2 separate regions of the Homo sapiens genome follow, and region 2 is linked to region 1. The links come from fine-mapping of genetic effects on gene expression. A gene starts in region 1. The other region holds a variant in brackets. All regions are shown on one strand. Distances are from middle to middle.

Region 1 (4,384 bases):
TTTTTAAAGAAACAGGGTCTTGCTTTGTTGCCCAGGCTGGTCTTAAACTCCTGGGCTCCAGCCATCCTCTGGCTTCATTCTCCCAAAGTGCCAAGATTACAAGCATGAGCCACCACACCTGGGCTTGACTCCCCATCTTAACACTGCACAGGTTTTTAGTGGTATTCGGAAACAAACAAAAATCACTGCATGAGTGTTCCATTCATATAAAAGAATTAAATATGATGATTCAACTAAGAGTAGAACCTTCCCTTGAAGTCTTCTTCCTTAAGGGTCTGAAACAAACATCGTAGTTGAGTCTACCAGACACTATTCCTTCACAACTTAGTACAGGCTAGCCAAAGAGGCAGGCACAACATGGCTGGCATCCCTTATTCTTCTGAAAAATGTGTGCCAATGAGCTCTGCATTGTTCCTCACTCAAAAAGAAGAGCCTTTCTCTCTGGCCTCCTCCAATGGCAAGCCCCAGTCTGGAAAAGGAAGAAAATGGCACTGAGGAGCCTGGGAGATGGAGCATATCCAAAGCTCTCAGACAAGACTTGAACCTATGACCTTCACTGTGTACACAATAGGCGGGTGAGAGGGACCGGTTTATCTCTGCTGCAGCAGTTCTCAGCCCTGGGGTAGCGCTCCCGATAAAATGACACGACTATTGTGTGTGGCAGCAGAACAGTCATCTCCTCACAACAGCCTAAACCAGCACTCCCTCCCCCAAGACAAAGCAGCAGGGGTGAAATTAACTCAAGGCTGCAGAGCAAAGCCTAATACAGAAAAGGGAGGCCTGTAGGGGCTTGGGGACTCTCCTCAACCCCTTAGGCTCTGGACACATGGCTGGAAACAGACAGGCTTTCTTCCCTATCTTTCTCACTCTCATTTAGGTAGGGAGCTGTTTCTTAGAGAATTTAATCATCCGTGATTTGTTCAGAAATATTCCCCCTGAAGGGCTCTGATCTCTCCACCCTGTGTGAGCCTAATTCCTCGAAGCTGAAATGACTGTTTGCTGCTGCCTGTTTCACAAACACACATTAATTGGTCAGATGTGTCTCCTCCTCCTCAACCCCAGAGGGAGGAAGGAGAATCTGAGCAAAGCACAGAGATGATCCAACCGTAATTACACATAAAGGGAAAAGAGGGCAGCATGGGTTTTCCAAACAGGATAGGGTCACAAACCCTCCCGGGGGTACAAGGATAGCAGTTGAGGTCCAGGCCCAGGGATCCCTCCATCTTGAAGAAAAGGACAGGAGTAAATGTGACCTGAAGACTGTTAGGGGCACACACCCACAACCTACTTACTGCAGGATCCCAGCCACCTTGCTCCCCACTCCTAGGTCACGCACACGTCCTGCTTCCGACCCTATGCTCTGAACAACCACCACCGCCCCCGCCCCCCCTCCCCCGCCAACTCCCTGACTGGCCCCAGTCGCCCCGAGCGCCCTCAACATACCCAGACTCGCCTCAGAAACTCTCTGGCCTGCTCCCATAACCTAGCCAGACCCTAATCCCCTCCCGGGCACCCCTACCCTCAGCCTGAACCGGCCGTGGCCACGCTTTGAACTTCACCCCGCGCCCCTCGACGCCCCCTCCCCCACCCACGCAACGACCCCCCCTACACACCTTCCCCTCGCTCCGCCCCAGCCCCCCCAACCCCCACTTCCTCCGTCAGGCAGCGCCGCCGCCCCCGGCCCCCATCAGATCCCCTCAGCCCCGCGCCCCATCGGTGCCGCCGCCTCTTTCCTCCCCCAGTCCCGGCTCCACACAAAGCTCCGGACTCACCGCGCGGCCGGTCCCGGGAGCCGCCACCTCCGCCCGCCCGGGGCCCCGGGCCGTAGAGCCGCCGCTGCTACGGGGCCCAGGCCGCCATCCGTTCCCGCGGCCCCTCCCCCCCACCCCACCCCGGCTCCGGCTCCGGCTCCGGCTCTGGCTCTCTGCCCCCTCCCCGCGCCTCTCCGCCCCGCCCGGCCGGTGCCGCTGTGTCCGGGGCCGCGGGTCCCTCAGCCGCCGCCACCGCCGCCGCCGCCGCGATCCGGGACAACCAGAGTCACCCGGAAGACGCGGACACTGGACTGCCAGGCCCTCGGATCCGGATTCCGCGCTTGTGTGGAGTCTGGAGCCGGTGAGCGCAGGGGAAACCCGGAACCTGGATGAAGGAGCGAAATCCTGGGTCTCGGAATGCGCGCTCACCCGGAGCCCAGATTAGGGAGTCTTAGCTCAGGGAATGCTGGAAAACCCGGCGTGCCGGTTAGAACCAAGATAAACTCAAAGAAACCTGGATTAGAGAGCTCGAACCTAACGCTGTCCCCTCGTGGGCAGTAGAACTCTCGCTGGATCAGACTTCCTCATAGAGAGGTCTCTGGGGGGAGTATTGCACCTTATAACACAGAAGACACCTCTTCTGTAGTTGTCCTTCAACCACAGAGAGGAAAGGGCCGTAGGGGATCTGAACATGGGCATCCACAAAGAACAGAAGAGCAATCACAGCTCCTGATGGTTTCATCCATTTTACCCCTTAGTTCAGCAAAGTACCAACCTCCTAATTTTTTATCCTTTGTTCTCCAGCTTTCTCTTTTAGGATTACCACTTGCTTTTCTCCCCAAAGCACCCATTTCTAATCCCTCTATATATCCCTTTTCCCCTCACCATCCTCTATCACTAAATCTTGTTGCCTTTTATTATCTAAAAACCTTATTCTGTCCTTCTCCAACCCACCATTCTAAGGATTGTAGCTTTTATTTTTCCTTATCTGCTATTCATCTCTGATTGCCCAGCATACTATCTAGTGCACAGTAGGCATTCAGTCCATGTTTAAGTGAGCCCTCCCACCCAGCTTTCACTTGTGAAACATCTATTCATGACGACCTCCTAAGACTTCCATCTCATTCCATAGCAAACAAATTTACCTTAATTCTCAAGGCCTCCCACATCCTAGCCCCTATTATGTCCTTCCTGTGTCCTTGACCATTTTATTTTGCTTTGCATTTATCTTACCTTTTTTCCCTTATCCTGGGGCATCCTTCAACAGTGCCACTCAAGATAGCATGTGACTTGGAGATAAAGTGAGGTCATAAAAAGGTGGGGGGAGGGGTTGATAGCTAAAGATAAAAGTAAACCTTTCTGGTCTAGGAAAAATAATCTCTCTTTGGTCCACCAATAGTCATGTTGTTAGACAGTACAGGGGCAGAACTGATCCCAGGTGACAGCGAACTTCCAATGTATACTAGACAAAGTTACAAGTGAGGATTCAGCTACTTAGCAGGTGGAGACAGAGAAGGGTTTAGTGTTTTAGACTTAGGCATGATTTAATTAAGGATTAAACATTCCAGTAGTCATCTCCCACTGAAGGAGCATGACTCTGCCATTGGAGAGAACTAGACTGCAAAAATAGGGAACAAAGGAAGGTAAACATTCCTGCAGTGAACTCCAAGTTTCAGCCAGAGAAAGTTCTCAAGCCTCGAAGAACCACTAAAAATTTTCAAGTGATCAGATGTCCCACATAGTAAACAAACCTTAAGTTTTGATTTACTGTTCCTCTAGACCAAGGGTTGGCAAACTGCATCTCACAGGTCAAATCAGGCTCACCACCTGTTTTAACATGTCCCATGAGCTAGAATGATTTTTACATTTTTAAACAGTTAAATAATCAAAATACTATTTCATGATGTGAAAATGATATGAAATTCAAATTTCAGGCCAGGTGCGGTGGCTCACGCCTGTAATCTCAGCACTTTGGGAGGCTGAGGCGGGCGGATCACGTGAGGTCGGGAATTCGAGACCAGGCTGACCAACATGGAGAAACCCCGTAAAAATACAAAAGTAGCCGGGCGTGGTGGTACATGCTTGTAATCCCAGCTACTTGAGAGGCTGAGGCAGGAGAATCGCTTGAACCCGGGAGGCGGAGGTTGCAATGAGCCGAAATCTTGCCACTGCACTCCAGCCTGGGCAACAAGAATGAAACTGTCTTAAAATACAAACAAAAAAATAGTTTTATTGGCTCTAGCCAAGCTCATTCATTTACATTATCATCTATAGATGCATTTTTACTACAACAGCAGAGTTGAACAGTTGAAACAAGGACTGCATGGCCTGTGTAAAGCCTAAAATATTTGCTATCTGACCCTTTACAGAAAGTTTGCCAACCCCTGCTCCAGACAAGCACTATCCAACAGAACTTTTTGCAGCGATGGAAATGTTCTATATCTGTGCTGTCCAATGCAGAAGTCGCTAGCCACATGTAGCTATTTGAGCACTTGAAATATGGTCAACAGTGACTGAATAACTGAATCCTTAATTTCATATAATTGAGATTTTCATAACCACAAGTGGCTAGTGGCTACCATAATAGACAGTACAGCTCTAGACTCTTAAATCTTCTGTACTGATGTTTTTTT
Region 2 (4,350 bases), 220 kb before region 1:
CCTTTTCCAGCCTACACTGGTGTCTGTCAGTCTTTATCTCTCTCTCTCAATCCAGAGGGTCATGGAAAGATAGGAGGGGAGAACAGAGGGATGATACCTCAAAAGCCAAGTAAGCTAAGCTCCCCACACCTTGGGGAAGACATGACCCCAATAAAGCTACCAAATCATCCTCACTTTCCCAGTACAAAGAGTATAAAGCTTCCATTGGGAGACTGCATTTCTAAGGAGAGCAGAGAAATGTTGGCTGCCTCAAAGCACAGCTCCACTGAGTACATTCTGAGACTCTAATAAGTAATGGCTTGGATGTGTTATTCCAGGGTCTAAGGAACAAATAACCTCCCATGGCCAGTGGCCCCTCAAACAAAATATGTGTTACCAAGAAACACAGCTTATATTGGCCCACATGGAGGTTATAGACTGAGCTATATAAAATCATGTACTTGTAGACAGAGGAATTGGGCTGTATATATCTGTGGCCTCAAATGAGGAAGATATCAGATGGCTAGATGACAGGACATCTCCAAGAACTGCTGGGTGCTCCCAGGGGCTGCCTTCTGGGCCTTGCCCTAAGGTGACCTGGCAGACTCCAAGGTTCCCCAAGCTGGGGGGAATACTAGTTTATCTGCCTGAGGCTTAAGAGCCAAGCAGTGGAAAAGAAGAGGCAAGACCAGTGTGGGGATCCCCCTGGGAAAGGCACCAAGGGGTTAGGAGGGAAGGGAAAAGGGCAAGGAGTTGGGGAATAAGAAGCAGCAGGACTTAGTGGGGACGCAGGTTCTACTTCACAGACGTCATTCATGCTCCAGCACCAGCTTGCTCCCAGTGTCCCTGGGGAGCCCTGTGCTGGTGTTGGAACCCCTGCCCCCTGCCTCACAGGCAGCTCAAGGCCATGTTGGGGCAGATGCCTTGGTCTTCCTTTCCAGGCTAGGTTGTGAGCGTTTATATGTGCTCATGTAAATGGGGAGAAGTCTCCACATTTGAAGACCTTGTTTTCACAATTATGTAGAAAACAACCCCCAATTTCTTTCCTGAGATTCTAGTTCCTCCACATGCTGCCAATTCCCAGGGTGCAAAGCACTAGGGAGATGCAGAATCTGGTGATGGTGGTAATGATGGTGAGGGGTATGGCTGCTGTGCTGTCTTCAGACCTTACCCAGTGCTTGGGGGTGGGGGTCCCTCCCTGGTGGGCGGGGGGGCTGGTACTGCTCCAGCAGCAGACCAAGGGCTTGGGGAACAGAGCAGTGGCTTCTCTGGGCTGAGGCCATGTTCCCCTGGTTGCTTCCCGTGCCTTCATCTCCACAGAGGCCACAATAGTCATAACTGTGGCTGAGAGAATAAATATTTTTGCTAAGTACCAGCTCTCCAGCTCCTGAGGAAGAGGTAGGGTCAGGTAGTCCGGAGGTCTGGTGGAGGTGAGATAGCCAAGGGTCTGCCTTCAGTCATGGTGGAAACGGCAAACAGGATGATCAACACCATTTAACTGATGTCTAAACGGCACCTTCAGCACCTCCTTGGGTAAGCCAGTCCGGGCCCGTGAAGCTGACTTTATCCGGGCACTTGGTGTCTGCAAGGGAAACATGGACAGATAACCAGGCACTCAGCCTGTTGGTAAAAAAACCACAAGGTGGCACTCCAAGAAAATGAATTGTAGGAGTGGCCAGTACTGGTCCCTAGGGGACACTGTGTTCCACAGGTCCTCTCAGATGCACATGGCTTCACGGGAGACTCTTGTACAAGAGGCTTGGCCAGGGTTCCATGGATTCCAGACTGCTGACCCCTCATAGCTATTTCTCACCTAGGGATTCTGTGATCCAGGTAGCAACTATCCCGGCTTTATGTGTTG[C/T]CCCAAATTAATAAAAGTGACTTACCATTCTCACCTCCTGGGGGGTGGGTAGAGTGAGGGAGTTGAGCCTTGTTGGCTGGCAACAATGGCTGTAGAAGAAAGCCCTGAATAAGCAGGAGAACATGTTAGTGTAGCACTCACAGAAACCTTCCATTAATCTTTTTCCCTGAGTTTTGGGGTGCTGACAGAAAAAAAAATCTGATACTCAGCCAGATATATTTGCTGGAGATAGATAATAAGGCTCTATTTCTCAGCTGATTGTTTCTCTTTGCCTTTGGGGAACACCTGTTCCATATTCTTCTGACTATCAAGGCCAGTATTCTGGAGGAATTTAAGAGTCCCCAAACTCCAAGGGAGGAATAAATATCATATGCTTTAATGACTGCAGGAGGTTAGGACTGTGCACAGATTAGAAGCTCAAAAAAAAAAAATTAAAAAAGGATTCTTATGAGGCAGGTAGGAGGGTCCTAGCTGTGGACATTACTACTGGGATGAAGATAAACAAAACAAAACAAGACAAAACAACAGGTGGTAGGGAAAACAGGCTTACCTGCTGCATAGGGTAAGTTGTACTGTGCTGGGAGCAATGAGTACCCCAAGTGGTGGTGGTGGTGGTGTGTGGACATCAGGCGCTGGGAAGGAGAGGTGCGGGGCCGGTCAACACTCCGTTCACCCCCACTTGCTCCCCCGACGCTGCTACAGCTGCCACCACCCCCAACCACCCCACAGCCTCCTCGATCTCTCTCCTGAGAAGTTTTATCACTTATCTGGAAAGGAAACCAGAGACACAAAAGCACTATAGTGAGACACATATGCATACAACCACACACACACACACACACACACACACAAGTGAGATGCCCAGGGTGCCACCTTATGACCCCTAAAAGTGCAAGATACCTAAGAATAAAGAAGATGCCCTGGGGGCTGCCAGTGTCAAGTCAGCCAAGCTGCACTGTGGTCAGGACCTGAACTTGCCCACCTTCTCCCAGACCCTGGATCTGGCCTTACTAGTCTTTGGGTAACAGCCAGCATCACTGTACTTTTCTTACCGTGGGAGACTTGCTCTTGTAGTGACTGGCATGCTGCTGCAAGATGTCCAGGGCTTTGGACTCTGAGCTGGATTTACAAGTCACACTGGGGCTGGCTCGTGCCTTGTCAGCATCTTCACCACCTGAGACCTTGCTGCCATATGGGGAAAAAGAGTAGCTGGAAGGCAGGTAGGAACCTGTGGAAGGAGAAATCAAACAGTCAAAGAGATGGGAGAGGTAGAGGAAACTCTGCTTTAGTGAGCTTGATTGGGTGGGCATCAGCTTTCCTAGGCACAGGCTGAGGTATTTTCTAACATAGTGTCTTTGGCTGAGACTGTTGGCTTGACCTTTCTTTACTGAGCTCTACAGGAAAAATTAGCTAAGGGATATTAGGAACATGGCCCTGTTTCCTGCTTCCAACTTCCATAGATCTGATACTGTTCTTTGAACTGGTCTCAGATTCATCTTGGAGAAGTGATATGATAAAGTGGAAAGATCACACTTATCTGGAGTCAGAGCCTTGGGCTCAAAACCTTACTCTGAGACTTACTAGCTTGGTAACCTTGAGCAAATAAATAACTGTTTTGAGCTTCAGTTTCTTCATCATCAAAAATGAAGATATCAATACTTATTACTTAAGGTGATAGGGAGGATTAAAAAAGATAATGTCTATAAATCTCAGAGGACAGCGCCTGGCTCAGGGCGAGCACTCAACAAATGCAACTATGATTTTTATATTGATGGGTGTGAGTGACAGGGATAAAGGAACACCTCAAGGGTAAGAAATTTCCTATTTCTGTTTGAAAAGCTTATTTCTATTTAGAGTGTGCTTTATAATAATGTCACCAGAATGTTGAGACTATTTAGGCTGCTGTAGGAAGCTGGAGGCTCTAAGGAGTGAGGCTAAAGCAGTGCCCTTCCACCCCAGAAGCACCCCACATGGTTCTTTGGGCAACAAAACGAGTAGAGTTAAATAAGAGCATTTTCTTCTAACAAGTTAAAAAACATTTAAGGCCGGAGCGGTGGCTCATGCCTGTATCTCAGCACTTTGGGAGGCCAAGGCAGCCGGATCACCTGAGGTCGGGAGTTCAAGACCAGCCTGACCAACACGGAAGAACACCGTCTCTACTAAAAATACAAAATTAGCCAGGAGTGGTGGCACATGCCTGTAATCCTAGCTACTTGGGAAGCTGAGGCAGGAGAATCGTTTGAACCCAGGAGGTGGAGGCTGTGGTGAGCCGAGATCACGCCACTGCACTCTAGCCTGTGCAACAAGAGTGAAATTCCGTCTCAAAAAACAAACAAACAAAAAACATTTAAACACTATAAAGAGCTTGTCTTTTCCAAGCTGAATCTAGCAGGACCTCCCCCCAGTCTGACTTCAGATGGCTCTTCTTACTTGACAGGTGAACATGATCTGGCAACTGAATCCATGCATTGTTATGGTTTGCATTTTATTTGTTCTTTGTGTCTCTCCAC

Alleles and levels. Positions count from the first base shown, and alleles are read on the strand shown. Sizes are in standard deviations (SD) of each study's normalised expression.
As copies of T replace C in region 2, the expression in tibial nerve of the gene that starts at base 2,033 in region 1 goes up (small effect, 0.28 SD a copy in GTEx).

What was found.
Region 2: its variant is fine-mapped to the expression of ZNF609 in tibial nerve (GTEx, PIP above 0.99). The same link has a PIP of 0.9 or more in aorta, lung, subcutaneous fat and thyroid.

What each region holds. Positions count from the first base shown.
Region 1 is chr15:64,458,227-64,462,610 of GRCh38, reverse strand. It overlaps ZNF609 (zinc finger protein 609), which reads right to left and starts at 2,033. Exons shown (of 10, transcript NM_015042.2): 1 at 1,773-2,033. LOC105370861 (a long non-coding RNA gene) reads left to right here and starts at 2,024. Exons shown (of 3, transcript XR_932367.3): 1 at 2,024-2,112. RefSeq lists silencers at 1,702-1,801, 1,862-1,981 and an enhancer at 2,442-2,511.
Region 2 is chr15:64,678,903-64,683,252 of GRCh38, reverse strand. It overlaps ZNF609 (zinc finger protein 609), which reads right to left. Exons shown (of 10, transcript NM_015042.2): 7 at 2,893-3,068; 8 at 2,391-2,607; 9 at 1,866-1,944; 10 at 1-1,561. The coding sequence ends at 1,871. Among named protein-coding and RNA genes, the nearest start is that of OAZ2, 22 kb to the left of the region's middle. The variant C/T (reference allele first, on the strand shown) is at 1,841.